Linked DNA regions of Homo sapiens: regions 2, 3 and 4 are each reported to be linked to region 1. The links are microRNA targets in miRTarBase. Many come from high-throughput screens and were not tested one by one. Region 1 holds a microRNA gene; each other region holds the end of a gene's coding sequence.
What was found. Region 1 holds the annotated microRNA hsa-miR-627-3p (UCUUUUCUUUGAGACUCACU, at 2,754-2,773, shown strand). A microRNA usually pairs through its seed, bases 2 to 8, with sites in the 3' UTR of a target mRNA and lowers its output. Matches are read on the target gene's strand: a 7mer-m8 pairs with bases 2 to 8, a 7mer-A1 pairs with bases 2 to 7 and ends in A, and an 8mer does both.

Region 2: miRTarBase lists HLA-DRB1 as a target of hsa-miR-627-3p. The part of its 3' UTR that is shown has no 7-base or 8-base seed match.
Region 3: miRTarBase lists SLC35G1 as a target of hsa-miR-627-3p. Seed matches in the 3' UTR shown: 7mer-m8 at 4,499-4,505.
Region 4: miRTarBase lists EXOC8 as a target of hsa-miR-627-3p. Seed matches in the 3' UTR shown: 7mer-A1 at 5,280-5,286.

The regions. Positions count from the first base shown.
Region 1 is chr15:42,195,240-42,202,365 of GRCh38, reverse strand. MIR627 (microRNA 627) reads left to right here and starts at 2,700; the gene lies at 2,700-2,796. It overlaps VPS39 (VPS39 subunit of HOPS complex), which reads left to right. Exons shown (of 25, transcript NM_015289.5): 2 at 2,405-2,470.
Region 2 is chr6:32,572,744-32,579,869 of GRCh38, forward strand. It overlaps HLA-DRB1 (major histocompatibility complex, class II, DR beta 1), which reads right to left. Exons shown (of 6, transcript NM_002124.4): 6 at 6,032-6,361. The coding sequence ends at 6,348. It also overlaps the pseudogene RNU1-152P. Among named protein-coding and RNA genes, the nearest start is that of HLA-DRB1, 14 kb to the right of the region's middle.
Region 3 is chr10:93,900,253-93,907,378 of GRCh38, reverse strand. SLC35G1 (solute carrier family 35 member G1) reads right to left here. Exons shown (of 3, transcript NM_001134658.3): 3 at 3,555-6,627. The coding sequence ends at 5,889. Among named protein-coding and RNA genes, the nearest start is that of SLC35G1, 9.8 kb to the right of the region's middle.
Region 4 is chr1:231,329,563-231,336,688 of GRCh38, forward strand. EXOC8 (exocyst complex component 8) reads right to left here. Exons shown (of 1, transcript NM_175876.5): 1 at 3,191-7,126. The coding sequence ends at 6,006. Among named protein-coding and RNA genes, the nearest start is that of EXOC8, 4.7 kb to the right of the region's middle.

The sequences.
Region 1 (7,126 bases):
TTAGAGCTGCTGTTATTTCTGATTTCAACATTTTTTTTGTGTGTGACCTGCCTTTCCTTTAAGACCCCAAATCAAAGAAAATAGAATCACTCTGTTTTTCTGGATGACTAAGAACATCATCCTGGAGAAATACTATTGATCCTTTGGATAAGGAATGTAGGTGCTGACCTGTTTTTATAAATATAACTACTGCCATTCAGACAACCTTTGGCTGACACCCATTTTTTTTGACATGGGTGCCTTAGTAAGTACATCACAGCATGTGGTTGGGAATCAAGACAAATTGGGGTTGGGATCCCAACTCTGCTGCTTGCCACATGTGTGACTCTGGAAAAGTTATATATTCCCTAGGCCTCAACTTCCTCATCTATAAAATGGGGATTTGAAAAAAGGACTTACTTCAAGGGATAGTTGTGAGGATTAGTGAAATAACAGATGCGTTTAGCATTTCCTGGAACACAATACATGCTCAATAAAAGTTATCTATTTGTACCATTATCCAAGATTTTATTTTACAGAGGTCAAGAATCAAGAGAGTTTATGAAAGGAATGAGTGACCTTTATGTTATCAAAAAGCTAAGGAAGTATCTGTACATGCTTACCTTCCTTGAATGATGTAATATGGGTCTGTCAGGGTAATTATTTAAACTCTTTCTGAGCCTCTTTTTACCTAGACCAGTGCCTCCCAAAATGTGGTCCTTGAACCACCAGCATCAGCATCATCTGGGAAGTTGTTAGAAATGAAAATTCCTGGGCCTACTTTTAAACCTACTAAATCAGATGCTCCGGGGTAGAGCCTAGCATTCTGTATTTTAACAAACTCTCAAATAATTGTGATACACTAAAGTTTAAGAACCACTAGCCTAGACCATCTTTTAAAATGTACAATTTGGCTGGGCACAGTCGCTCACCCCTGTAATCCCAACACTTTGGGAAGCTGAAGGGGCATTGCTTGCGGTCAAGAGTTGGAGACCAGATTGGGCAATATTGTGAGCCCTCATCTCTATAAACATTTTTTAAAAAATAGCTGAACGTGGTGGTGCATGCCTGTATTTCTCGCCACTCAGGAGGCTGAGGTGGGAGGATCACTTGAGCTAGGGAGGTGGAGGCTGCAATGAGCCATGATCACACCACTGCTCTCTAGCCTGGGCAACAGAGTAGAACCCTATCTTAAAAAAATAAAAGTTAAAAAAAAGTGTACAATTAAATGGTTTTTAGTACATTCACAGAGTTATGCAACTATCAGCACAATAAATTTTAGAACATATTCATCACTTTCAGAAGAAACTCAGTACCCATTAGTATTTACTTTCTATTTTCCCCCAAGCCCACCAGCCCTGGGCAACCGCTAATCTTTCTACCTCTGTGGATTTGCCTACTCTGGACATTTCATATAAATGGAATCACGTGGCCTTTTGTCTGGCTTCCTTCAGTTAGCATCATGTTTTTAGGTTCATCTGTGTTGTAGCATATATCCATACTTCCTTTCTTTTCATTGTTAGCTAATATTCCGTTATATAGACATGCCACATTTTGTTTATCCGTTCATCAGTTGGTGGACATTTGGTTTGTTTCCATCTTTTAGCTATTACAGATAATACTGCTGTGAACATTTGTGTACAAGTTTTTGTGTAGAATATGTTTTCATTTCTGTTGGGTGTGTAACCAGGAGTGGAATTGCTGGGTCCCAGGGTAACTCTGTTTAGCCTTTTGAGGAGCTGCTAGACTTTTCCAAAGTGGCTCTCCCATTTTACATTCCTGCCAGCAGTGTATGAGGATTCTAATTTCTTTATATTCTCATCAACACTTGTTATTAAATATTTTCTACTAGACTATCTTTTGAGATAATGAATTCTGTAAGCTTATTATGTTACGTCATTTATTTTCCTGAAAGTAAAAGCATTTAAAGGATGCCTCTTAGCTATTATTGCTGAGGTTGGATACCTGGTTTCACATTTGTACTTCCATTTTGTGATTTTATAAACTTTCATCATATTCTTTTTAGCAGAATTTAAAAATATATATCTGAAGATATATATCTTAATAAAAGTATATATAACAAAAAATAAAAATCATAATAATTTAATCTTAAAAATACAAAGCCCTTCTATCTTTTTTATTAGTTTAACATTAAAACAATTGAGCCAGGACATTTTTATCCTCTGATATGTCTAGCCTAGTAATTATTCAATAAATGTGTTTTTAAATGGTTGATTTTCAAACATGAGTATAAACATTTCTTAGCTTTGCAAAACACCTCCTATCAAAAGCAACTCATTTTCTTGACACATTGATTTCTGATTACAAGCCCCAGCTAAAAAAATAGGGTTATACTCAAGCTGATTGACCTTTCTCAAAGCTGGTTTTTTTTTGTTTTTGTTTTTGTTTTGTTTTGTTTTTCCAGAGGAATGGCTTCTTGTGGGAACCAAACAAGGACATCTTCTTCTCTATAGGATTCGGAAGGACGTTGGTAAGTGCACATTGCTCATGCAAAAAAATAAGTTTTAATAGTCAGCTAGTATACAACTGTGAAATCAGTTATTCCTGGACCATTAAAAGAGAGATTGAAGGTTAGAGGGAGCACGGTGGGAAAATGGGGAGAAGACTTGAGAATGCCTAGGGTTTTTCTCCTCCAAATTGTATTGCCCTACCTGCATTTGGGAGGTGAGGATGAATTGCTGGTTTACTTATTACTGAATTACTTATTACTGGTAGTGAGTCTCTAAGAAAAGAGGAGGTGGTTGTTTTCCTCCTCTTTTCTTTGAGACTCACTACCAATAATAAGAAATACTACTAATGGGCATAAGCTTCCTGTATATATGGTGTGGTGGTAGGAAAAAAAATTAGGCAACATCGATTTAAAATATCTTGTTGGCTTATGAGGGGTAGAACAAGAAGAGAGGACCAGGGTTTGCCTTCATGTGCACTTCCCCCTGGCTGCGTGACCGTGAGCAAGTTCTTTCCAACATCAGTTTTCTATAAACTCTCTGCCCCACAAAGTTGTTGGGGTGGATGCAATAATAGGCTCGAAGAAACTGTGAAAACTAAAGTTCTAATCAAATGTGACTGTCAGTAATGTAGAGTAATAACTAAAGTATTTGAAATGTATTCTGTTAAAGAGTGTTTTTTATTGGGGCAGAAAGTACCTCACTGCCCTTCCTTGTTTTCGTTTCTGTGCTCTCTTTATGGAGAATAGATGTGTTTAGGTATTATGCCCTGGAGCCACTCTACAGAAATCTGCAGTTAATTTCATACCCTTCAATATAATATATATTTCTCTGGTAAATAGCTTAAGAGATAGCTTAAGATAAATAGAGCTCTCTTGTGGAACCTGGAGCAAGGGTAACACTGGGGGAAAAAGCACCTTACTAGTGCACTCGGGAAAGAGAAGATATCCTGGTCAGTTTCTGCAGCAGGGTAAGAAAAGAAACCAGAGAACAAAATAGATAATTTATTTCATTTCTAAGTTTTTCAACTGTCCTCTAAATCAGGGTCAGCAAACTTGTTCTGAAAAGGTCCAAAGAATAAATATTTTAGGCTTTGCAGTGTTGTTACTACTTAACTCTGCCTTTGTAACATGAAAGCAGCTGTAGGCAATATGTAATGAATAGGTATGGCTATGTTCCAATAAAACTTTATTTACAAAAACATGCAAAGGCCTCAGTTAGGCCCTGGAGCAGTACATTGTTGATCTTTGTTTTAATGTTTTAAATTTTTAATTCTCATGGCCTGTGAAGTGGCTCATGCCTATAATCCCAGCACTTTGGGAGACTGAAGTAGGAGGAATGATTGAGGCCAGGAGTTCGAGGCCAGCCTGGGCAACATGGCAACACCCTGTCTACAAAAAATTAGCTGGATGTGGTGGCACGTGCTTATAATTCCAGCTGCTCTGGAGGCTGAGGTGAGAGGATCGCTTGAGCCCAGGAGGTTGAGGCTGCAGTGAGCTATGATCACACCATTGCTCTCCAGCCTCAGCAACAGACTTTGTCTCAAAAAAAAATTTCTTTTTTTAGTTCTCGGAGCCAAAATATTTGCGTTCTGTGATATTTGCCTGGTCTATAATTTTAAAATTAAGCTCACATTTTAATTTTAAAGCTAAAAATGCTTATCTTATTCAGCATTCAACAATTGTTTTTTGACTCTCTGCTTTGCTTTCACATGTAAGTGGTGATCAGAAATTGAAAACAAGACTTTATAAATGAAGTCTCAACACAGTATAGACCTGAACTGGTAATATTAGTGTTAATCTGGCTTGGAACCCTGGTGGCGACTATTCCTTGCCCTATGATCATTTTATCATGTCACCTTTGACAAATTAGTTAATGTTCCTGGGCCTTGGTTTCGCCATAGGTAGATTAAATATAGACAATTAGGAAATCAAATTCTGATTTGAAACTTTTCTTCAAGAAATGCCATTTTTCCCTATACTCTTGGTGAACAGTTTAGTTCTGGCCCAGATCTGGCCTGATGTGGGCCAGAAATAGACCTGGGCCCGTGTGAATTAGTTCTAGGGTTAATTTGGTTTCCAGATTTGAGATATTTCAAGCCTAAATAGGTCTTTGGGTAGACTGTCTTTCTGAGGAAAGGGAGGGGATAATAGGGTCAAGAAAAGACTAGGGGTAGGGATCGTAGGCTCTGATCTGATCTGAGTCATTTCCCTGGAGCTCAGTTGAGCCAGTGACATTTTTATCCTCTGATATGTCTAGCCTAGTAATTATTCAATAAATGTGTTTTTAACTGGTTGATTCTAAAATATGAGTATAAACATTCCTCAATAGACATCTCTAGGCTTCATTCTGCTCCTTTATTTTTTGAGACAGGGTCTTGCTGTGTCGCCTAGGCTGGAGTGTAGTGGCGCTATCTTGGCTCACTGCAGCCTCAACCTCCTGGGTTCAAGCCATCCTCCCACCTCAGCCTCCCAGGTAGATGGGACCACAGGCACACACCACTATGCCCAACCCATTTTTGTATCTTTTTTTTTTTAGCATTACTTAGATTTTTTCTTTTTTTTTTTTTAGGTTTTTTTTTCCACTCTTTTTAATTATACTTTAAGTTCTAGGGTACAAGTGCACAACGTGCAGGTTTGTTACATATGTATACATGTGCCATGTTGGTGTGCTGCACCCATTAACTCGTCATTTACGTTAGGTATATCTCCTAATGCTTTCCCTCCCCCCTCCCCCCACCCCACGACAGGCCCCCAGTGTGTGATGTTCCCCTTCCTGTGTCCAAGTGTTCTCATTGTTCAATTCCCACCTATGAGTGAGAACATGCAGTGTTTGGTTTTTTTGTCCTTGCAATAGTTTGCTGAGAATGATGGTTTCCAGCTTCATCCATGTCCCTACAAAGGACATGAACTCATCCTTTTTTATGGCTGCATAGTATTCCATGGTGTATATGTGCCACATTTTCTTAATCCAGTCTATCATTGATGGACATTTGGGTTGGTTCCAAGTCTTTGCTCTTGTGAACAGTGCTGCATTAAACATACGTGTGCATGTGTCTTTATACTAGCATGATCTATAATCCTTTGGGTATATACTCAGTAATGGGATGGCTGGGTCAACTGGTATTTCTAGTTCTAGATCCTTGAGGAATTGCCACACTGTCTTCCACAATGGTTGAACTAGTTTACAGTCCCACCAACAGTGTAAAAGCGTTCCTGTTTCTCTACATCCTCTCCAGCACCTGTTGTTTCCTGACTTTTTAATGATCGCCATTCTAACTGGTGTGAGATGGTATCTCATTGTGGTTTTGATTTGCATTTCTCTGATGGCCAGTGATGATGATGATGAGCATTTTTTCATGTGTCTGTTGGCTGCATAAATGTCTTCTTTTGAGAAGTGTCTGTTCATATCCTTTGCCTACTTTTTGATGGGGTTGTTGGTTTTTTTCTTGTAAGTTTGATTTCTTTGTAGATTCTAGATATTAGCCCTTTGTCAGATGAGTAGATTGCAAAAATGTTCTCCCATTCTGTAGGTTGCCTGTTCACTCTGATGGTAGTTTCTTTTGCTGTGCAGAAGCTCTTTAGTTTAATTAGATCCCATTTGTCAATTTTGGCTTTTGTTGCCATTGCTTTTGGTGTTTTAGACATGAAGTCCTTGCCCATGCCTGTGTCCTGAATGGTATTGCCTAGGTTTTCTTCTAGGGTTTTTATGGTTTTAGGTCTAACATTTAAGTCTTTAATCCATCTTGAATTAATTTTTGTATAAGGTGTAAGGAAGGGATCCAGTTTCAGCTTTCTACATATGCCTAGCCAGTTTTCCGAGCACCATTTATTAAATAGGGAATCCTTTCCCCATTTCTTGTTTTTGTCAGGTTTGTCAAAGATCAGATGGTTGTAGATGTGTGGTATTATTTTTGAGGCCTCTGTTCTGTTCCATTTGTCTCTATCTCTGTTTTGGTTCCAGTACCATGCTGTTTTGGTTACTGTAGCCTTGTAGTATAGTTTGAAGTCAGGCAGCGTGACGCCTCCAGCTTTGTTCTTTTTGCTTAGGATCGACTTGGCAATGCAGGCTCTTTTTTGGTTTCATATGAACTTTAAAGTAGTTTTTTCCAATTCTGTGAAGACAGTCATTGGTAGCTTGATGAGGATGGCATTGAATCTCTAAATTACCTTGGGCAGTATGGCCATTTTCACAATATGATTCTTCCTATCCATGATCATGGAATGTTCTTCCATTTGTTTGTGTCCTCTTTTATTTCGTTGAGCAGTGGTTTGTAGTTCTCCTTGAAGAGGTTCTTCACATCCCTTGTAAGTTGGATTCCTAGGTATTTTATTCTCTTTGAAGCAATTGTGAATGGGAGTTCACTCATGATTTGGCTCTCTGTTTGTCTGTTATTGGTGTATAAGAATGCTTGTGGTTTTTGCACATTGATTTTGTATCCTGAGACTTTGCTGAAGTTGCTTATCAGCTTAAGGAGATTTTGGGCTGAGCCATTTTTGTATCTTTTGTAGTGATGGGGTTTCGCCAGATTGCCCAGGCTGGACTTGAATTCCTGGGCTCAAGTGATCTGCCCACCTCAGCCTCCCAAAGTTCCGGGACTACAGATGCGTGCCATCATGCCCAGTTAATTTTTGTACTATTTTAGAGACAGGGTTTCACCATGTTGGCCAGGCTGGTCT
Region 2 (7,126 bases), not on the chromosome of region 1:
AGGAATTAAGAGACCAATAACTCTTATAAGGTAAGTTCTTAAGAAAACATTAGCCAAGTGAATTCAGTGATATAAAAGATGGCTACTACATCATGACCAAGTGGAGGTTATTCCAGAAATGCAAGGTTGTTTGAGCATTTGAGAATCCATTAGTGTGATTCACGACATTAACTGAAGGAAGGAGAATACACATGCAACCACCTGGATAGAGTCGTGAAATACGATTTGACAGAATTGAGCACTTGGCCTTAATTTTGAAAAAACCTGTTTTCAAACTTGTATTAAAAAGATATTTCTCCAATCTGAGAAATGATAGCTACCCAATTGCACACATTAGTCTCAGCAGTGAAATATTGAAAACTATCTCCTTCATATCAGGAGTACTAGAGGAGTTAGGCAATAATAATGGCAAGAAAAATATATCAAAGAGATAATAATTGCATCCAGGTAAAATGGTCATTATTTACTCTTGACATAATCAGGTACTTAGAAAATAAAAACAATAGACAAGCTCACAGATTTAATAAGTGAATTTAAATAATGTTGCTGATTACAAAGTCAGTATACATTAAACCAATTATGTTACTGATATAGTTTGGATGCTTGTGCCCTCCAGATCTCATGTTAAAATGTAACCTCCATTGTTGGAGGTGAGGCCTGGTGAGAGGTATTTTGGTCGGGGGGCAGATCCTTCATCAATGGCTTGGTGCCATCCTAGCTGTAATGAGTGAGTTCTCACTCAGTTCACATGAGACCTGGTTTTTTAAAGGACTGCAACTGTTCCCCAACTTTCTCTGTGCTCCTGCTCTCACCATGTGATATGCAGGACCCCCTTTCCTTCCCCCATGATTGTTATTTTCCTGAGGCCCTCACCAGAAGCAATTGCCAGCACCACACCTCCTGTAGAGCCTGCAGAACCCTGAGCCAGTGAAACCTCCTTTCTTTATGAATTACCCAGCCTCAGGTATTTCTTTCTGGAAATGTAGGAATGGACTAACATAATTATGCTCTATCATAAACAAATAGAAAACAAAACCAAGAAAATAATTTTATCAATTTCTTCACCTCTTTGCTTTTTCTTCTACTTTTTTCAACTTAAATTTGCTTCTTTTTATTATTAAGTTAAAATTTTACCCCTTTGATTTTTACATATTTATCCTTTTATAATACAGGCATTTAAAACTAAATATTTTTCTCTAAGGACTGCCTTGGTTGCATCTCGAAAATTTTTAAAATTCATTTTAGTATTATTTTATTTAAAATTATTTTCTAATTTCCTTCTGATTTCCTCTTTGACAAGCCATAGATTATTTAGAAATGTATTATTTTACTTCCAAAAATTTAGGCCGTTTTCTCAATCCTACTAATTTGTAATTTCATAAGATTGTGTTCAGAGAATATACTCTGTATGATTTTATTCTTGTGAAAGTAATTGAGACTAGTTTTATAGTCACAGTATTTGTTCTATTTCATGGATTATCTTTGTGCAACGTAAATAAGTAAATATTCTGTAGTTATCAGATGTTGTCAATTTATGTTAATTATAAATGCCAACTAAGTCAAGAAGGTGGAAAGTATTGTTCCTATCTTGATTTCCTTCCTGATCTTTGCACGAAGCTACAGAGATATTTGTTGTCTTCCATCTACCTCCCTAGTTCCCACAGCACCAGCATGAAGTCAGAAAAAGTTCTGGAAGGAGAATCAGCTGACAGGGCAAAGTAGATATATATTATTCAGGGGGCCTCTATAGATTGTAATGCATCACACAAACCCACAGGGCTATTGACAACTCAGCTGGTTTATCCTTACTCCCTCACAATCTCCCTTTCTCAGCCAGGCTCAATCTTCTTCCCATGTTAAGATTCAGTAGATGACCAAAGAATAAGAGTGGACACTTGACCCTGCTCGCCTATGTGGAATTTGTTCATCTCTGGAATTTGGAATTTTTATACTTTTTGATCCACAGCTGGTTAAAATTTTTAAAATAAGATTATTTTCCAGTTTATCCATTTAGTTTAGTCTATATATCTGTTTGCTCTTATAGTAATAGTGACAATTCTCGTAATTTTCCACCTCCTAACTGGCATTATGGTTTATGATTTTTTTCCAATCCATGTTGATAGTCCTACATAATTTACTTAAAGCCCTGAATATTATTCCTTTCTGTGGTTATACCACAGTTTACCTTTTCTCTATCTAAATGTAGATAGTGTTTCTTTTCTCCCCTGTTACATTTTTTATATGTCATCATGGACATATGAGGAAAAATTCACCGAGACTGTAACAACCTAGAGTGGAAATACTGTATTATTCAAACTACTCAAAGGGTTACACCAATATATGCTCACAGTGCCCCACACAGCACCAAATGTCATCCTGCAGTGTGCTGTCACTTCACATGCTCCATAGTTTTTAGGATGTACAAAATTTTTATAATCAAGACAAATTAATCAGTTTTTCTTTTTGAATTTGGAAATGTTTTTGTTATTCCAAACCGTGGCTCAACAAACGACCAATTTTATGTCTCGTTGGGCTCATGTAGGATTGTTCTTTAAGACGGATGTTTACAACGGGATTTTTGTTGTTTTCATCAAGCGCGTAACAATTGTATTTTGAGTTTTAATAGATACTACTACACTGTTATAACTTAAAATCCTAATAATATGGGAGAGTCTATTCCCTTAGAATCTTCTAAATCCTTGAGGTTAAAACAAACTATTGTACTTGCCAATTTTGGAGTAGGAGAAATAGTTTATTACATTGCTGTTCGAATTTGGCTTTTTCTCTTCATTGGTGAGTTTGAGCAAATATATATATATTTATCGACTATTAGGATATTCTCTTCTATAGTGAGTCTATATCCTTTGCCCAATTGTCTATGGCATTTCCATGAATTTATTGATTGATTAGTTAACAATTTTTCATAAGAAAGCCCATTGTCTGCCTTATGTGATCAAAATTTTTCCTGAGCATCATATACTTCTTTTAATTTTGTTATTTTCTTCATGCAAAGAAATCAGTAATTTTCTTCAAATATTTTTTCATTTGTGTCTTCTGGATTTTGTCTTGCTTATGAAGTCTTATTTTTTTAAAAAGGATTATTTTAACAGATTTACTAAAGCATAACTTTCATACTACAAAATTCACTCATTGTACATGTAAAATTGAATAATTTGAGTAAATTAATAGATTTGTGCAATTATCACAACAATTTAGTTTTAGAACATTTCTGTCATGTCCCAAATTTCTCTATTTATAGTTAAGTCCCACTGAGACCCCAAACCCTAGGCACCCAATGATCTGCTTTTTGTGTCTATAAATTTACCTTTTCTAGATATTTCAAGTAAATGAAATCATACAACATGTAATCTTTTGTATCCAATTTCCTTCACTTAGTTAACACTATTGAAGTTCACTAGTTTTGTAGTATGTATCATCATTTTGTTTTCTTTTCATTTCTTTTTGTCTTTTTTCATTTGTGCAAATGCAAAAGGTACAAGTGTAGTTTTGGTACATGCATAGATTGCATAGTGGTGACGTTAGTGTTTCTACAGTATCCATTACCCAAATCACATGCATTGTACCCATTAAGTAATCTCATCATCTAGGGTGCAAGGGTTGAAATTTGCCTTGGGAAAACTACCCTCATGTTTATGGTATCTCCCCTGCCAGATAAGTCTATTTTTGTCCCCTTTTATTGTTGAATGATATTGCCTTGCCTGGATGTAGTTGAATTTTGTTTATCTATTTACTAGTTGAAGGATATCTGGATTGTTTTCAGTTTTGGCCTGCTATGGCTAAGGCTGTTCTGAACCCTTGAACACATATCTATGTGAGGACATATGTTTTTATGTCTCTTAGGTAGATTCCAAGGAGTGAAATTGCTAGGTCATAGGGCAAACATATGTTAAACTTTTTAAGAAATTGCCAAATTACCAGGTATTTGTAGACTCATACACTCCCACCAGCAACACATAAGGAATTAGAAAGTCTATTTGTCTTCAAACATAATTATAATGATGATGATAGTATTAGAAATAGCATCTGTCTTATGAACTTTATATTTTCTCTTTATGTTTCAAGTTTTATTTATCCAGGATCTATTTAGTGAAAGAAATGAATTTGGAATTCAACTTACCAAAAACTGAAACTAAATCTCAGCTCTTTCTGTTTCTATTTCTAGACTCTGTTTTGCTAGCATATATAATTTTAAAAAATCAGTAACAAATGCATTTTTAAAAGTAAATGTATGGTATGTTTTAGCACCTTATAGAGCTAATCATTCCTTATTCTACTTTTTTTCAATATTTTCCCTGGAAAATATATTTACCTCATAAAATAACATGTCAGCATACTTAACTGAGTTGTACAAACAATCAATCCTGTTTGCTTGCTTTTTTTTATTGTAATTGAGTTAATGGCTGACATTTAATAACTCTATGTGTGTGTATGTATACACACCTATATATACATATATGTATATATGTACATATATACGTGTGTGTGTGTGTATATATATATATGTATACATATAAAGACCCAAAACCCTGAATTGAGGGTGCCTATCAGGAATCTATAGGCTTTCATGTGGAAGTTAACTCAAATACTTACAACCTGATAGTACCACAATCTATCATTTCCCTACCCGGAAATCAATCTCTGCTACTCCATCCACCATTTCTTTATTTTTTAAAATACATGATTTTGCTCCTTTTCTTCCCATGTGCCTCAGGCCCACTCTGCAAAGGTTGAATCCTGGCTTGTCTGAGCCCATGTGATCCCACGGTCATTCCAATGTGTGAGAAAGTGGGTACTGGGAACACTCTGGAAACAGTTTAGTTGCTCCTTATAAAGGCACACAGGAGAAAGGAGTATCCTTTTCCTGCCTTTGGGAGTTGTTGTGAAAGAATAACAAACCTAAAGCTGCTGCAGGGGTCACCCTACCATCTCAGGAAAGCTGACATACTGTGTGTGATAGAGAGATGAGCTATGAAGTTCCAGGGTCGCTGGTGATGCCACTGGCCTGCTGAGTTGAGCAACTCTGGAGATGCCCAGCCTTGGATCTATCGGCTATGTGAGATAACGGGTTAAAGAAAAATAAAGCCACTAGATGGGATTTCCTGCTATTAGCAGCAGAACGCATCTTCATTGAAATATTCATTCCACACATTTTGGTTCTACCTTGAAATTCCACACCACAAGTCTCATATAAAATGAGAAAATCATTTCCTCAACTTAGGAAATGAGGCCTATTTGTTGCAACTCTGTGATCAAACAGAACAGACATAATTATCAGCTTAATATATTTCTATAGGATTTATACTCTTACAGGATTTATATGCACTTGTACTGCTACGTATGTACAAGTAACATATAACTAAAAATAAGATATGCATAAAAACAACTTTTAATTTGATTGAAAATAAAATAACAGTCGTCTCTGACAGTGGAGAAATTATGCTCAAATGATTATTAATTTGAAATAGACCTCTGAATTATGTACTTTTAGATTTGACATTTCATACTGACTCTCAGATAGAACATAACGGAGAACTCTCCATCTTCTAAATGTGTCTTTCTCTGAAATCTGTACAAGTCCTTTGATAACACTGTATTATTGAAGTCTCTGGAGTGAAACACTATACACTAATTTACAGTTATAAATACAAAATATTGTAGACGAGATGAAGAAAGAGTTCTGATTGACTTGCTGGCTGGTTTCTCATCTCATGTTTGCCCAGTTTGTTTCAGTTGTTATAGTCTGTTCTCAGTTTTTATGCATTGCCTTTTTAAATGTTAGGATTACTTTTTTAATTGACAAGTAAAAATTGTATAGTATATTTATGTTGTACAGCATGAAGTTTTGATATATGGCTATAGTGTGGAATGTCTAAATCCAGCTATTTAACATACGCATTACCTCACACACTCATGACATATACATGAAAATCATTATTCTATTGGAAAATAATCTTCCCTTTTTCTTTTCATTTTCTGTCTTTGGAGCCAAATGGACCAGATGATATTTAACTCCATCTTTGAGAAACATTTAATAATGTAATGTGTTTGTCATACAGGGTGAATACAGATGCACGGGAGGCCATACGGTTTAGGCAAAGGGGAGCACAAAAGTTGAAGATGAGGCGCTGCCATCAATGCTGGGACTTCAGGCCAAGGGCAGGAGCTGAGGAAGCCACAAGGGAGGACATTTTCTGCAGTTGCCGAACCAGTAGCAACCAGGTCCTGAGAAAGCCCTCTCTTGTGGAAGAATAACTGCCAAGCAGGAAAGCTTTTCATCCTGCAAAGCCGGGGCAGAAAGTTCTTCCTTGAATGTGGTCATCTGCATTTCAGCTCAGGAATCCTGCAAAAGACAGAGGAGAGTGTTGTTTTCAACCTGGCTCTACTAACAGTTTCTTTTCCCCTCTTTCAAGGGCTCAGATGAGAGCACTGCAGGAAGAAGAAAAAGAAGTTCCTGAGTCTCCCCTGAGCCAATAGTCCCGCAGAGCACACCTTTTCTAAGTGGAGAGGAGGAATTTTGGTGTAAATTGCCTGATCAGAAATTTGGATCCAAAGTCTTTCCTATTATTTCTGTCTCATGCCTTATCACCTCTACCATCATTCTGGTGTGTCCTGAGTTTGTTCCTTCCGGTGGGTTTGTGGTCTCGCTGACTTCCTGCAGACCTTCACAGTGAGTGTTACAGCTCTTAAAGGCGGCAGGGATCCAAAGAGTGGGCAGCAGCAAGATTTATTGTGAAGATCAAAAGAACAAAACTTCCACAGCAGGGAAGAGGACCTGAGTGGGTTGCCACTGCTGGTTGGGGTGGCCAGCTTTTATTCCTGTATTTGTCCCTGCCCATGTCCTGCAGATTGGTCCATTTTAAAGAGTGCTGATTGGTCCATTTTAAAGAGTGGTGATTGGCCCATTTTAAAAGTGCTGATTGGTCCATTTTAAAGAGTGCTGATTGGTCTATTTTACAGAGTGCGAATTGGTCCATTTTACAAACATCCAGCTAGCCACAGAGAACCTATTGGTGTGTTTTTACAAAGCACTGATTGGTGCATTTAGAAACCTCTTGTAGGCCGGGCGCGGTGGCTCACGCCTGTAATCCCAGCACTTTGGGAGGCC
Region 3 (7,126 bases), not on the chromosome of region 1:
ATCTGATAGATGGTGCCAAATTGCCCTTCCTAGAAGTTGTACCAATGCACACATGCTGCAAAGTACCAAAGACTTCTGACTTTTCTAAAATGCACATACAAAGGAACTAAAGCACATAAACAGGAAGTGTGTTCATCTGTTGTATCTCGTACTGTCACCCAGGCTGGAGTGCAGTGGCGCGATCGTAGCTCATTGCAGCCTTAAACTCCTGGACTCAAGTGATCTGGCCACCTTGGCCTCCCGAAATGCTGGGATTACAGGTGTGAGCCACTGTGCTGGCCTTGAAAGATAATGTAATTATATGTTAATATAAATAACACTTTAATAAAAAATAACTATTTTCCAAAAAAATTAGTGAGAAGAGTGGCATTGCTTTTTATTTTTGCAAACCTGGCTTGATAGATAATAGCTGTATTCTCCTATCTGCTTCTGCATTCAAGCTGTTGCAATTTCATGTCTAATAGCCTCTGGAAAGCTCCACTGTATACTTATGAAAGAATGATTGTGAAACAGACTAATAACATTCTTAGTATTATTATTAAAATAGTTTTGACATCGCAAACACTTTGAAAGGGTCCTGAGGACTCTGAGGTATCCAAACCACACTTTGAAAACAGTTGGTTTAGACCAACTTTATTATATTTTATTATTCTTATCCCCTATATATCTAATTTTTGTGAATTTTATCTGTCACAGGCTAAAAAAACCCCATGAAAATGTCCTACCTTTTGTTGATTTTTGTTCTTTTGAGGTGTTTTGCTTTATGTAATTGTGATTGTGTATAATGTGGTACATACATATCCAAGACAATTTTATCGTTTATATTTTTTTTTTAGTGGCTTAAAACAGTAATAACTGGTTTCTTTTTCTCACAAATCTGCAATTTGAGCAGAGCTCAGGAGGTAGGAGGAGGGCTTGTCTCTGCTCCACACAGCATCAGCTGGGGCAGCTCACCTGAGAGTTGGAGGATCCATTCCCAGTGTGCACACTCACCTGGCTGGCAGGCTCATGCTGGCTATCAGCTGGTAGTGCAGATGGGGCCAAGTGTCAGGGCCTCAGTTCCTCTCCACATGGGCCTCTTCATGTGGGCTTCTCCATGTAGCCCAGGCTTCCTCACAGCAATGTGGCTGATTTCCCAGGGGGAATATCAGAAGAAAGAAAATGTTAGTCCATTCTGAATTATGCTATTGCTTTGAATTCAATTCTAATATTATTGAGCTAGTACCTACTATAATCATAGAAAAAATCAAATATAGTTGTATTATTAGTTTCTCTCTTTCTGGTATGTTCTTGGCACATACAGCTTAATCTTAAATCATGGTCAAGTATACTTGGAACAGCGGTAAGAACAGCCAGGTTCTTATAACCTCAGATACAGGCCTTCTGGTTAGTAATGCACTCCTCTGGCCTGGCCTTTCCATGTACTTCTGCTGCACCATGGAGCTCCCAACCCTGGCATGGTACTTTCATGCTGCACCATTCACCTGAACACATTTCCTCCTGCCCAAGTCTACTTCTGCTCAACTATGGTTTTATACTTTCCTGACCCCACCCTGGCAACTAATCATGAATCTAGGTTACTTCCTTTGCTTCATCAGGCTTACTGGTATTAATCTCACATGGTTTCTAGAATCATGAAAGTTTAGTGGAAGAGACCCAGGCTCTTTCTCTAGTAATGACATTTCCTGAGCCCAGTGGAACGTTTTCCTGTGTACTGGGCATCTCTGCTACATTTACTGCCCTCCCTTGATACCAAGTATGTCTTCTCCTTACCCTCTTGCTATAAAGCCCACCCCTGAATTTCCAGGAGATGAGAAGTGCCAAGGTTCATGGGCTGTGAATTGTTTTCCCAGGTCCAGCTCCAAACTTAATGTTCAAAGAGGCTAAACCGTGGATCCATCAATGTGGATCAGAGTCCCTGATAGGTTATCTTGCAGAATTCTAGGTGAATATGGTAGCTGTATTAGATCTGATATAAGGCACCAAACGGGGCATAAAACAGCATGCTTAGGGTAGTGTCCAGGATTCATATATCCAACCTTCACCCATATAACCAAATTCTAATGCCCATTATTGACCATGGATCCATACACACCTAGATCAGAGACCAGGGTGATATCAAGAACATCTGGCTCTCTTCCCACTAGAATGCCCTCAAGAGAGTAAATATGCTTACCGAGTGCAATACGTAAGAGGCTAAAAGAACCATGCTGAGTACACAGTGCATGGGAAACACACATAAATCAGGCCCATTCCCCAGGTCAGAGCCAAGCATAATACCCATATAAGATCAGAGCTAGGGCCAGAACTGGAAAGGTGGTAACACCTGCGCATGAAAGGACTGGTGATCCTTGGCAGCCCTATATGGGAAGATCAGCTAGGAAGTGAAAGCTGGCCAACAGCACAATTCTGTGCTAGCAGGAGGGGGCCGAATGGAGTTTGCATTCTGATAGGCATGTTCCTACGGTTCCTGGTGAGGCTGCTCGGGAGTAAGGACTCTGGTATACGCCTCATTTTGAAGAGGAGAGTGAATACTCAATTCTACAGTCTTAACCACAGTTCAATACTTAATGTTTTCATCCTTCTTAATAGTCTATAAGCCCTTCTATGGCACTCATTTGCAAGAGGGACTGGGCAAGTGAGGAAAACAGGCTCAGGTGCATTAGGTGATTTGTCCAGCTGAAAAGTGATAAAACCACACTAGACCTTCAGATCCCAATCCAGTGCTTTACCCACTCTTCCAAGATGGATTATGTGGGTAGGAGAAGCTAGAGTCCAGAAGAAACAAAAGCCTAAGCTGAGCCATTGGAGGCTAACAGGCCTTAGAGGGTAAATAAGAGAAGGTAAGGACAGGGGGGAAATGCAGAGGAAGGACTCTACTGGCAAACATGGGAGCTAGTGGTAAGACTGATCTGAGTATCCCATTTGTGTTGGGATGTAGAAATCAGGTCGGAGAAGTGGGAGTAGGGCCAGATGAAAATTTGATGTGATATGGTGTGTAATAAGGCATCACTGTGGTTTCATGAGAACTAGAGTAACAGTGAAAACAGGGCTTTAGGAACATTAAGCTGGCACTGAGACAGGAATCAGAGTGGAAGAAAGAGTCTTGAAGCAGGTAACCAGTAAACTGTTGTGGTAATTCAGGTGTAAGGTGCTAAGTCTTGGGCTAAGATGGTGGCAGTGGAAATGGTGAGGAAAGAATAAATCCACAAGACAATAAGAAGACAATAAGAAGAAAGACTCTTCAGGATTTAGTAACGGATTAGCTACAGGAACAAAAAGTACAGAGTTCAAAGCTACTTTAAGTTCTCAGGATCTAGAAGAATGAAGGTCTCACTAACACAGAAGACTAATGCCTTTATTTTGGAGAGATAAACAGATTACACTGTTCATCTGACCCTCTTGATAGTACAAGTGGGTCAGACAGTTTAAACTTTGAGATTATATCCCAGCTGAATGGCTAGAGGTCAATCTCCTACAGAAAATATATTTTGAAGCATAGGGTTGAAAGGGAAATAAGTTATATATTTGCTATAATCATAACAACCAACATATAGCTTTCTTTCATATTATTTTATTAGTACTTATAAAAACAATTTATGAAAATATTTTCCTTTTCAAGATATAGAAACTACGCTCTGCAAAATATACATACCCATAGTTGTTACAATACATATCCTTGTATACACCTTGGACATTGTGTTTAAGAATCACACCCTGTAAGGGCTAGAAGAAACATTTTCTCTAACCTCAGTTATATAGTGTGACATTCAAGTACTTAAACTACATTGTTCAAACAAAACATGTCTCTAGTGTATGGGCCTAAAGGGATTTAACTTTCTAGGTGCCACTGATTCTTTCACTGTGCAAGGTAAAGAACTGGAAGAGGGTTCCCTGAGAGTTAATTCACCTTAGGTAGCTCAAGTAGTGGTTTACTGTCCATACTTTATCATGGAACTAAGGAAGGGAGGAAGGCCATGGAAATTCAACTTGGGCAGGTCTCCTCTCTATCATCCCTATCTACGAAGCATGGCCCCTATGTGATGATTTCTGAGACCTCTAGAGTTCTCAAATGCTCCTGATTCTGTAATTATCTAAGATATTTGCAGAATGATGTTTTTGCAAGTCTAAATTCCAATACTGTAAATCAGGTGGAACAGAGATGACTCACCTACATAGACTTCATTTAGGGTTTGTCAGGTGTCAAGGCAATTGATAAAATCAGCAAGCCAAAAATTCCCCCATTGGAACTATTGGAAAAGATTCTTTCTCACTAAGGCACGAACCCCAGAAGCCAAGTTCCTCTTTGCTTTGGAAAAATTATGATGAGAGGGTAGGAAAGAGCCTATAACCTTTCAACTCTGCAGGCTTAAGATAATGACAGATGCTTCATCTGACACAGTAAGAGCTGGAAGCTATTGCAACCTCACCAATAAAGGGCTCATTACAACAAGTAACCATTTATGTATACTCCCTAAGTCCTGACTAACCTCCCAAGCTTTTCTAGATATTAAATTCTCTCTAACTGCAAAGTATTGGTCTGATGAAGTTCCAGGTGTAAAACGTGCTGTTTGAATTCATGGCGTTAGTGTCATGGTGCTGCATCATGGTATGGCACTGACATTTAACATCATGCTGATAAACTAGAATTCATAGTGATTTTATTTCAATGCAGGAAACTATGAAAGTCAATCAAACATGGATTCACAAGTCTTTACATTTAATGTATAACATAAAGCATTATTACACATAATTTCATAACTATAAAAATAAGTTTAATACATTACCATATTTTAAAAAATTACTTTAAAAACATATACTCCAAAGTCTTCTATTTCATTTAGAGAATAATGGAGGTATCTATTAGGGTGAATCATATGAAACGATGGTTTTTCTAAGTTAAAATAGTAAAATCTTGGCAATTACATATGGTTCAACCTAATAAGATCCTGAGAAAATTTTATTTGGCATCACACTATAAATTCAAGGGGAATTTATAGAAAATCACATTTCTAGTGAAGAGAAAACACTTCAGGATGGAAACGTGCACACTGGTCATGCCAAGATTTCTCTTTGTGATTTAGAGATCTGAAATCTTGGAATGTTAAGAAAAATTTAGTGCAGTTTCAAAAAAAAGTGAGGACAATTAAAATTATAGTATGCTAGCTGCAGTTGCTAATGCCACTGAAACAAAACTACTAGCCAAATTTGGCAATTTAAGTGTTTTAGAGGTGACATAATAAAAATTCCAGCATTAAAATGAAAAGGCACAAATATGAGTTACAAGTATGATAATCATTTATAAAATCCTTGAAAATAAGGCCAATTCATTTGTATTATTAACACCATTAAGCAGGCACCTATTCTAAGCTTCAACTTCATCCTCCTAAATAGAATAAGGTTGCAAATGAATTATCAACATAATACTAATTATAGCAGCATTATCAATTGTCTGGAAGGCATAGTTTATAAAGATCATGGTAGTAGAACCAAGTTTCTTAGGCTCTACACTGCTAAAAGAATATCTAAAATAGCCTCCCCACCCATATCCCATCAGTACCAAAAATACATTTTAAAAATTACATAAATATTACTAGCCATAAAATGTTTTGGTTTTTCTTCAAACAATGAGCTCTCCTCTCACCAACTTGACCCCAACAACAACAACAAAAAAAACCAAAACCAAAACCAAAGCTACCAAAAAATTGTTACACCAAACAGACTAGCTATTCTTAACTAAAGACATACTATATTCAAAAATGGTACTTTAGGCAATTTATTAAATACAACCAATGAAGAAAATGCAGATTTTCCAGATGTGTGCGTATGCTGTATGTGAATTAGGTGATGGTGTACTTGAAAAAAATATGTATTTCAGCAATGATGCTTCATTTGGAACTTTGGTACCATTTACGAATGGCCGCTCCAACATTACTGGCTACTACGCAGAGAGCACCACCCACTGTCCACCACGTTGGCACATTATTAAAGAAAATAATCTGAAAGATAAAAGCAAAGACCACATCCATTGTCTTCATTATTGCTACTGGCCCTGCTTTTTCTATTTGAAGTGCTTTTGTGATAAATATCTGACCCCCCAAACCAAAGAGCCCAATGAATATGAGAAATAGCCTGTCCAACCCACAGTAAGGCAGACTCCACTCTCCTAATACAGAGAGGATGATGACACTTTCAACGAGGCCAAGTACTACATAATACCAAATGCTCAGAAAGTAGTCCACAGATTTTCCCATTTTTCTTAGGATAACTAGAGTCGATGCAGCAAATACGGCACTTCCAATTGCTGCGAATGTTCCCTTAAGGTGGCCTGAATAGCTTTCTTCCATCCCCGAAGTGTCGGAACCAAACAAAAATGGTGGTCTCACGATAAGGATCACTCCAGTGATTGTGAACACGGTGAAAAGAGCATCCCAAGGGCTATATTTTTCCTTGAGACATATCCAAGCAAATATGGACGTAAACACTGGACTGCTAAACGTGATAACTGTGGCATCAGCGAGGGACATTGTCTGGTAAGCATAGTATATAAGCATCATGGCGGTAGAACCAAGGACTCCTCTGAGAATGAGGAAAATTCGTTGACCTTTTGGGCCTATAAACCCAGTTCTGTAAATTCAAATGAAGAAATGCATATTAAATGAAATTAATATTTGTTTTTAAATTACAATTTGTAATTAAACATTATTTTAAAAGTACTAAATATCAAAAAATGAGGGAATAGTAAATTAATTATAATATCCACAAATGAATATTATATACTTTTTAAAAATAGTATTTTCTAAGTATAGTTAATGACAGTAAAGTGTTCACAGTAAAAGCAAAACCAGTGCAAGTGAATTACATGCATAGTAAAATTATAATTCAATTAATATAGATATTTATCCCACGTATATGTATATATATGCTTGCAAAAAGGACAAAAAGGAAAATAAACTAAATGTTAATCATGTTTATATCTTAATAGATAAACTCATAGGTAATTTTCTTTCTTTATATTTATTTTCTCCAAATTTTCTATAAACATATCACTTTTATGATAAATACAATGTCAAGATTCAGCTGCCCTGTGTAAGGAAACTTAGACCCAGCTAATGCTCATTCTCAA
Region 4 (7,126 bases), not on the chromosome of region 1:
AGAGTACTTTGGAAAAACCTGAGACAGAAGAATGAGACCAGCCCTACCAGTTATTAAATTTCGAAACTACAGTTAACCAAAATAGCTTGGTACTGAACAGAAATAGAAATATCAGTGGCATTTCAAATCAGTGGGGGAAAAGGATGATTCAAAATTGTTGTGAAAATTTGCTAATTATTTGTGGGGAAATTGCATTCTGACATCATCACTTACATTTTTTTTTTGAGATGGAGTCTCACTGTCTCGCCCAGGCTGGAGTGCAATGGCACGATCTCGGCTTGCTGCAGCCTCCGCCTCAGCCTCCCAAGTAGCTGGGATTACAGGCACCCGCCATCATGCCCAGCTAATTTTTGTACTTTTGTAGAGATGGGGTTTCACCATGTTGGCCAGCCTGGCCTCAGGTGATCCGCCCGCCTCCGCCTCCCAAAGTGCTGGGATTACTGGCGTGACCCACTGTGCCCGGCCATCACCACTTACTTTAAAATGAATAATAGATGAAGCAAATTTCAAATATTAAAATATAATAAATTACTAGAAGAAAAACATATTTTTAGAATCTGAGAGTGGGTAAGGCCTTCTTAAGCCTAACCGAAAACAGAAGTCATAAAGAAAAAAACCCAAATAAATCTGGCTTCATAACGGGTTAAAATTTACCATACTATGAAAATAAATAAACGGCTATACAAACAAATGACAAACTGAGAAAAACTACAGCAGTACACATGAAGGGTTAATTTCCTAAATATACAATAAACTCCCACAAAATCACAATACAAATATAATCTAAGAGAAAAGTGGCAAAAGATATAAACAGGAAGCTTAATAGAAAAAGAAAGTTGTTCAACCTCACTCATAATTACATACAAAACTAGAAGCTGGGCATGGTGGCTCATGCCTATAATGGAAGCACTTTGGGAGGCCGAGGTGGGAAGATTGCTTGAGCCCAGGAGTTCAAGATCAACCTGGGCAACAAAGTGAACACCACCCCCCACAACCTCTGCCCTGTATGTATAGAAAAATTTAAAAATTAGCCAGGCAGGAGGATCCCTTGGGCCAGGCCAGGGAGGTTGAGGCTACAATGAGGCATGATAGCACCATCGCACTCCAGCCTGGGCGATACAGTGAGATCCTGGCTCAAAAAACAAACCAACCAACAAACAAAAATGAGAACAACCTAGAAGCTATTTTTTCACAGAGAAGATTAGTAACAATGAATATTATTACTAATAAGATGACTTTTTTTTGAGACAGGGTCTCGCTCTGTCCCCCAGGCTAGAGTGCAGTGGTGCTGTCATGGCTCACTACAGCCTCAACCTCCTGGGCTCAAGCAATCCTCCTGCCTCAGCCTCCCGAGTAGCTGGGACTTACAGGTGTGCGCCACCACGCCCGGCTAATTTTTCTATTTTTTGTAAAGACGGGGGTCTACCTATGCTATTCAGGCTGGTCTCGAACTCCTGGGCTTAAGCAATCCACTCTCCTTAGCCTGCCAAAGTGTTGGGATTACAGACTTGAGCCACTGTGCTTGGCAAGGCTACTCTTAATTAAACAGTGAATGAATACAGGTTTATAAGCATTCATGTAAACAGGTATTTTCCTATACTGTTGGAGAGAACTTAAAAATGATATAACCCTCCTGATGAGCAACTGGTAATGCTTAAATTTAAAATGTAATTTGGCAGAGCAATTTCTAAAAATACATCCCATAGATATATTCGCATAAGCGAATAGGAGGATGTGCATAGGTTTTCAGAATTTTTTTTTTGTAATCAACAAAACTTGAAGCCAACCAAGTAATTGGAAAATGCAAAATTATGATATATTCATTCACTGTGATTGACAACTACCCAATCACAGAAGAAAAACCCAGTGGGGTACAGCAAGAGGTACTGATACGAGATGTCTTAAAACACTGAACTGCTAAGTGACTAAAATCAAGATGCAGAACTGTATGCAGAGTATGATACAATTTCTGGAAAAATATGTACATGAAATTCTTACTAGTAGTTACCTCTAGTGAATGGGATTGTTGGGGGGATGAGGACTTTTATTTTTTACTTTAACTCTTCTGCACATTGCATATGGATTGAAGCTTGCTTTGTAGGCAAATGTGGCTTATTTACGCTTTTCCAAACTCTGCAATTCATCCAGGAAGGTCTCTTCATATGACACCCACATTCCCACTTCTGTGCCTTGGGCTCAGGTCCTACTCTTCCATTTTCTTTGCACATTTAAGTCTTGTCCATTCTTCAAGGACCCGCTCAAATGCCAACAATTCCATGAGAACTTTCTAAACTCCTTAAAAGTACACTGCTCTCTTCCTTCTTGGTATTTCCACTGTACACAGCTGTGCATTTGATTATTCTCTCACTTATATTTGTTGACTTTTTCCAATTTCTAAGCATCTTAAGAGGACGAAGTATGTTTAAAATTATTAAAATTCTTCTGCACTCCCACATTACAGTCAATATGAAGCATAGCATTCAATACTTTTAAATATGTGATAGTTTCCTCAGGATATACATATTACTTTCAAAAGGGCAAGCCTGGCCGGGCATGGTGGCTCACGCCTGTAATCTCAGCACTTTGGGAGGCCGAGGCGGGTGGATCACCTGAGATCAGGAGTTCGAGACCAGCCTGGCCAACATGTTGAAACCCCATCTCTACTAAAAATAAAAAAATTAGCCGGGCATGGTGGCGGGCCCCTGTAATCCCAGCTACTCAGGAGGCTGAGACAGGAGAATGGCTTGAACCCAGGAGGCAGAGATTGTAGCGAGCAGAGATCACGCCACTGCACTCCAGCTTGGGCGATATGGGAAGACTCTGTCTCAAAAAAAAAAAAAAAGGCCAAGCCTTGTCATTTAGTTCCTAGGTCTTGTGGCCTACATTTTATTTTCTTTATTTAGAGATGTGCAGATGGTATAAAATCTACTTTTTTATAATAAATTCACATTTTGTACCTCTGAAATTTTCCATTCGAGGGAATTTTAAAAAATTGAGATCTGATTTATTCACAATTCTGACGGTAAGCAGAACACTTACTTAATTTAGCAAACAGCTTCCTAAGTATCCTCCCCACATAAATAAAACAAAAAACTAGGGTCTTCAAAGAATATTTCAGTAACAAGAATATAAAAATATTGAATACCAACTAAAGAAGAGCAATAGATATAATATCTTAATATCACTTTTATCCAGTGTAAGACAATTTTTAAGCTTTATTTTTATGAAACATTTCAGATTCCCTCATATCACAGCACATCAATAAGCAGTATGTACATAGACTGACTTTTATAGTACATGTCATGTCCCAAATTCCCAATCCTAGGTAAGATATCAAGTTACAAAATACAAGTGCCGATAATTAAACTATAGGTAGTATATTAAACAAAAATGAGTTTTTAGCAATTATGTGAAATAAGGCTTTAACCAAAGCAAGACTTAATGCCACAAGGTGTCTTTTTTCCCCAAGAGTAATTAATTCAATCAAGCCCATGATTCCAAGCTCAAGTAACAAGTTTTATATTCTTGAAGCAAACAAGAAAAGGCAATCAATGCTTAAGTGGTATATTTTAGTATATATTACATTTCTGGACAATCTCTCATTGCATTCAATTTTTAGAACTTGTCTTGGGTCTAATAAAACAGAAGAATTAGAGAAGAAAGCCCATGCCACTTTGAGGAATGTAACATAATTGTTTTGTCTGGGTACAAAGGTACGTTACAACACTGGGGGTCTTTAGTCAAGTTCCCATACTAATTGACTCACCAAAGCATACTTCCTTCAGCTACAACTGTAATTGGAACACACAGATTTTACCTGAAGAAAATCCTGTACTTCCAGTTTTAAAAAGCAGACAATTCTATGAAGAAGCAACCATTTAAATATCTAACTATACACATTCAAGTTTTTACAACTTCATGCCTTATGAGGAATTTTGATTTCAGAAGTATCATTCCACAGACTCAGCATCATATATTTATACATATTTCATACAGTATAGTATTAGAAACTGTAAATGGCACAGAATAATCATAATTATCACAAAATTTTATCAATTTCCAGTGATCTTAAAAAGACAAATTATAACCGCCTTTGCTCAGCTAAGATATCCAGTTATGGTTACAACTTTCGAAAATCCTAAAGTTATGTGAAAAAAATTAGTCAAAGAAAATCTGTAAATCTGATACTTTCCAATATTTTAAATATGCACAGCTAAAGAGAAAATAAAGGGGTTGATCTGGCACATGAATAATTAAGTCAATGAATTTTACAACCCTGAGCCACTTTGGCAACTACTTTAGGTTTCACATAATTTTCACAGTCTTAGTACCACCATTTTCATTCAGATAAAAGAAATGACCTTTTGAAATCATGGGCATCAAATTTGGTGCTTATGGACAAGAATCACAACTAGAAGCTAGAGACAAAATGGATCACAGCAAGCACAGTTTCCCTCAAAGAATAAGGAACGCTATAGAATATACAACAGCGATAGTTTAGAAACCTTGGGAAGCTCACATTTCTTTAGTTATTTTGTTTTACTAAACAATTTGAAGTAAGCATTATATTCATGTTTAAAAACAAAGCAAGGAAAAATAAAAAATGAAACAAAAATGCAGCATGGAACATTTTAGGAGTCACAGAAGGTTCTCTTCTTCCCTTTGTTTTGGGCACATTGTCTCACCTGTTTTCACTTTGTTACAAAAGGAAACAAAACCAAATCTCTGCTCAGAGTGGTCATAGTGAGAACACTGAGATTTGCATATGTTTTTCTACTTTCCCATCCATCTAGACCCTGAAATCTAAATAAATATTTCAGTTAAAACTTTTTTTCCATTTGCATGAAGTCTGGGTCACTATATCTCCTACCCTGAATGGGGGAAGATGGGACAGCTATATCTCATACTGAAGCGGTGGCAGCTAAAACCTGGCAACTGCTGCCAGTGTCCCCAATGTGTCTTGCTTATTATTTTTTAAAATGTGACAAAGACAAAAGCTACAGCTGGAAACTCACACAATTTAGAAATATGTTGAAAACTTTTATTATAGTCCTTAGGATTTCCAAGTAAATGCTCCCAAATCAAGTATTACAAAGCTGCTAATTAATTAGCAACTGAAAATTAGCCATTCAAATTATATTGGAAATATTTGCTGAATTGTTTTTATGAAAGCTTCCTCTTGGATTCTGTAAGGATCAGAGTATCTGAATCCACAAACCAGCTAGTTTCAAGAAAGAATTCTTTTGACTAAAACTTACCTTAAAACCAATTTTCCCAACTCTTTTCCTTTTCCCAAATAGTCCAACGTTTTGAGGAGAAATATATGAGGCAGGTTGTTTTATACGGCACTGTACCCTTTAGGAAACCTAACATTTCAGTGAACTGGGAAACTTCACAACATAAACTCTATGTATTTATAGATATTATGACTGCTGTATAATATATACTGTGGGGAAAAAAAAAAAGAAGAAAGAAAAGACTAGCCTGGGCAACATGGCGAAACCCCATCTCTACAAAAAATACAAAAATTAGCTGGGTATGGTGGTGCCTGCCTGTGGTTCCTGCTACATGGGAGGCTGAGGTGGGAGGACTACCTGGGCCCGGGAGGTCAAGGCTGCAGTGAGTCGAGACTTTGCCACTGCACTCCAGCCTGTGCGACGGGGTGAGACCCTGTCTCAAAAAAAAAAAAGAAAAAAGAAAAGTTTTATCAAAGGATAAAACCGAAATGCTATAGTATATAGTGTGACCATAATTTCAGAAGAAGAGAATTAGCATAATTTAAAAGGATAGCTAGCATACTATACGTTTTAATAATTCCAGTATTTTTGTTACTTGGGCTTAATTTAACTTATTTTCCTCTTTTTGATTTTTGTATTTTTAAGAGGGCACTTTTAATTTTCAAGTTGTGTTTGAAACTATAGAGTATGCTAATACAACTTAATATAAATATAAATAATATATAAGCTCTCTCTCTGCATATATACACATATAAACAGACCCAAGCATTAGACCACTGATGTTGTACTTTCAGGATTCACACGAATAAGTCTAGATGCATTCCTCAGATCTTGGAGTTGCTTGGCAGGTTTCCCCACACCTTCTTCAAACCTTTTCTCCACCACAGGGAGGACTGTTTCATATAAAAAGGATGCATTCTGTCTGATAAAAGCTTTCTTCTCTGGATCCTGCTCACATCGAAGACTATAATCCACATGCTGAACAGCAACCAAAATGATTTCCACCAGGCTCTCCAAAAGTACCATGTGCAGCTCTGGGAAATACAGCTTCAGGGCCTCTTCCAAGAAGCCCATGGTCTGTTTGGTGAAAGCAACCACTGTGTAACTTAGGTTCACCCAGCAGTCATCCCCTGTGTACTGCTCAAAGTTACTTACCCCACAACTTTTCATCTCTTCTTTGAGCTTACCCAGGGCTTCTGGCGTCATCAAGTTCATCCTCCTCCACATCTCTTCAGAGTTGCGATGTTTAGTGGCTTCAATGATGATTTCTTTGTAACTGTGCAAGGCCCCTTGGATGTCTTTCACCAGAAGGGCATGGATGATGAAGGTGAGATCCAGTCCGATATCACCCAGTTGCTGGCAATGCTCCTTAGCCACTTTTACACACTCAGCTGCTGTAGAGAGGCTCTCCTTACTATCAAACACCTGCTTGCTAAAAGCATCCACGAACATGCCCATGGCTGATCTTGCCCAGACCACAAAGGCAGAGTAGCAGCCGCTGTCAGTGCCTGCAAAATCGATCTCAAATTCTCTTGCAGTCTCGAGAAGGCTGGTAAAGAAGACATGGCACAGCTTATGAATATAGAGTAAAGTGGCACCTTCGATGCGAAGCTGACGAATTGCAGTATGAACAGCGGCTGCCCTGTTTCTCAAAAATAGCTCACAGGCCTTCGTGCACTGGCCCAGCCGGATCAGTTGCGAAACTGCTCTGCGAGTAGCCTTCGGACCACCTCTCAGGGAACGATCTGGGGAGAGTTCGAAAACTAGCACCTCAGTGAGCTGTCGAACTCGCTCCTCCACTTTGGCCCTTAGTTCTTTTACAGGAGGTGGGCTAGGTTTATCTTCCAGGTAATGGTTCAATTTATCCAGCAGGTCAACCGCCCCTTCAA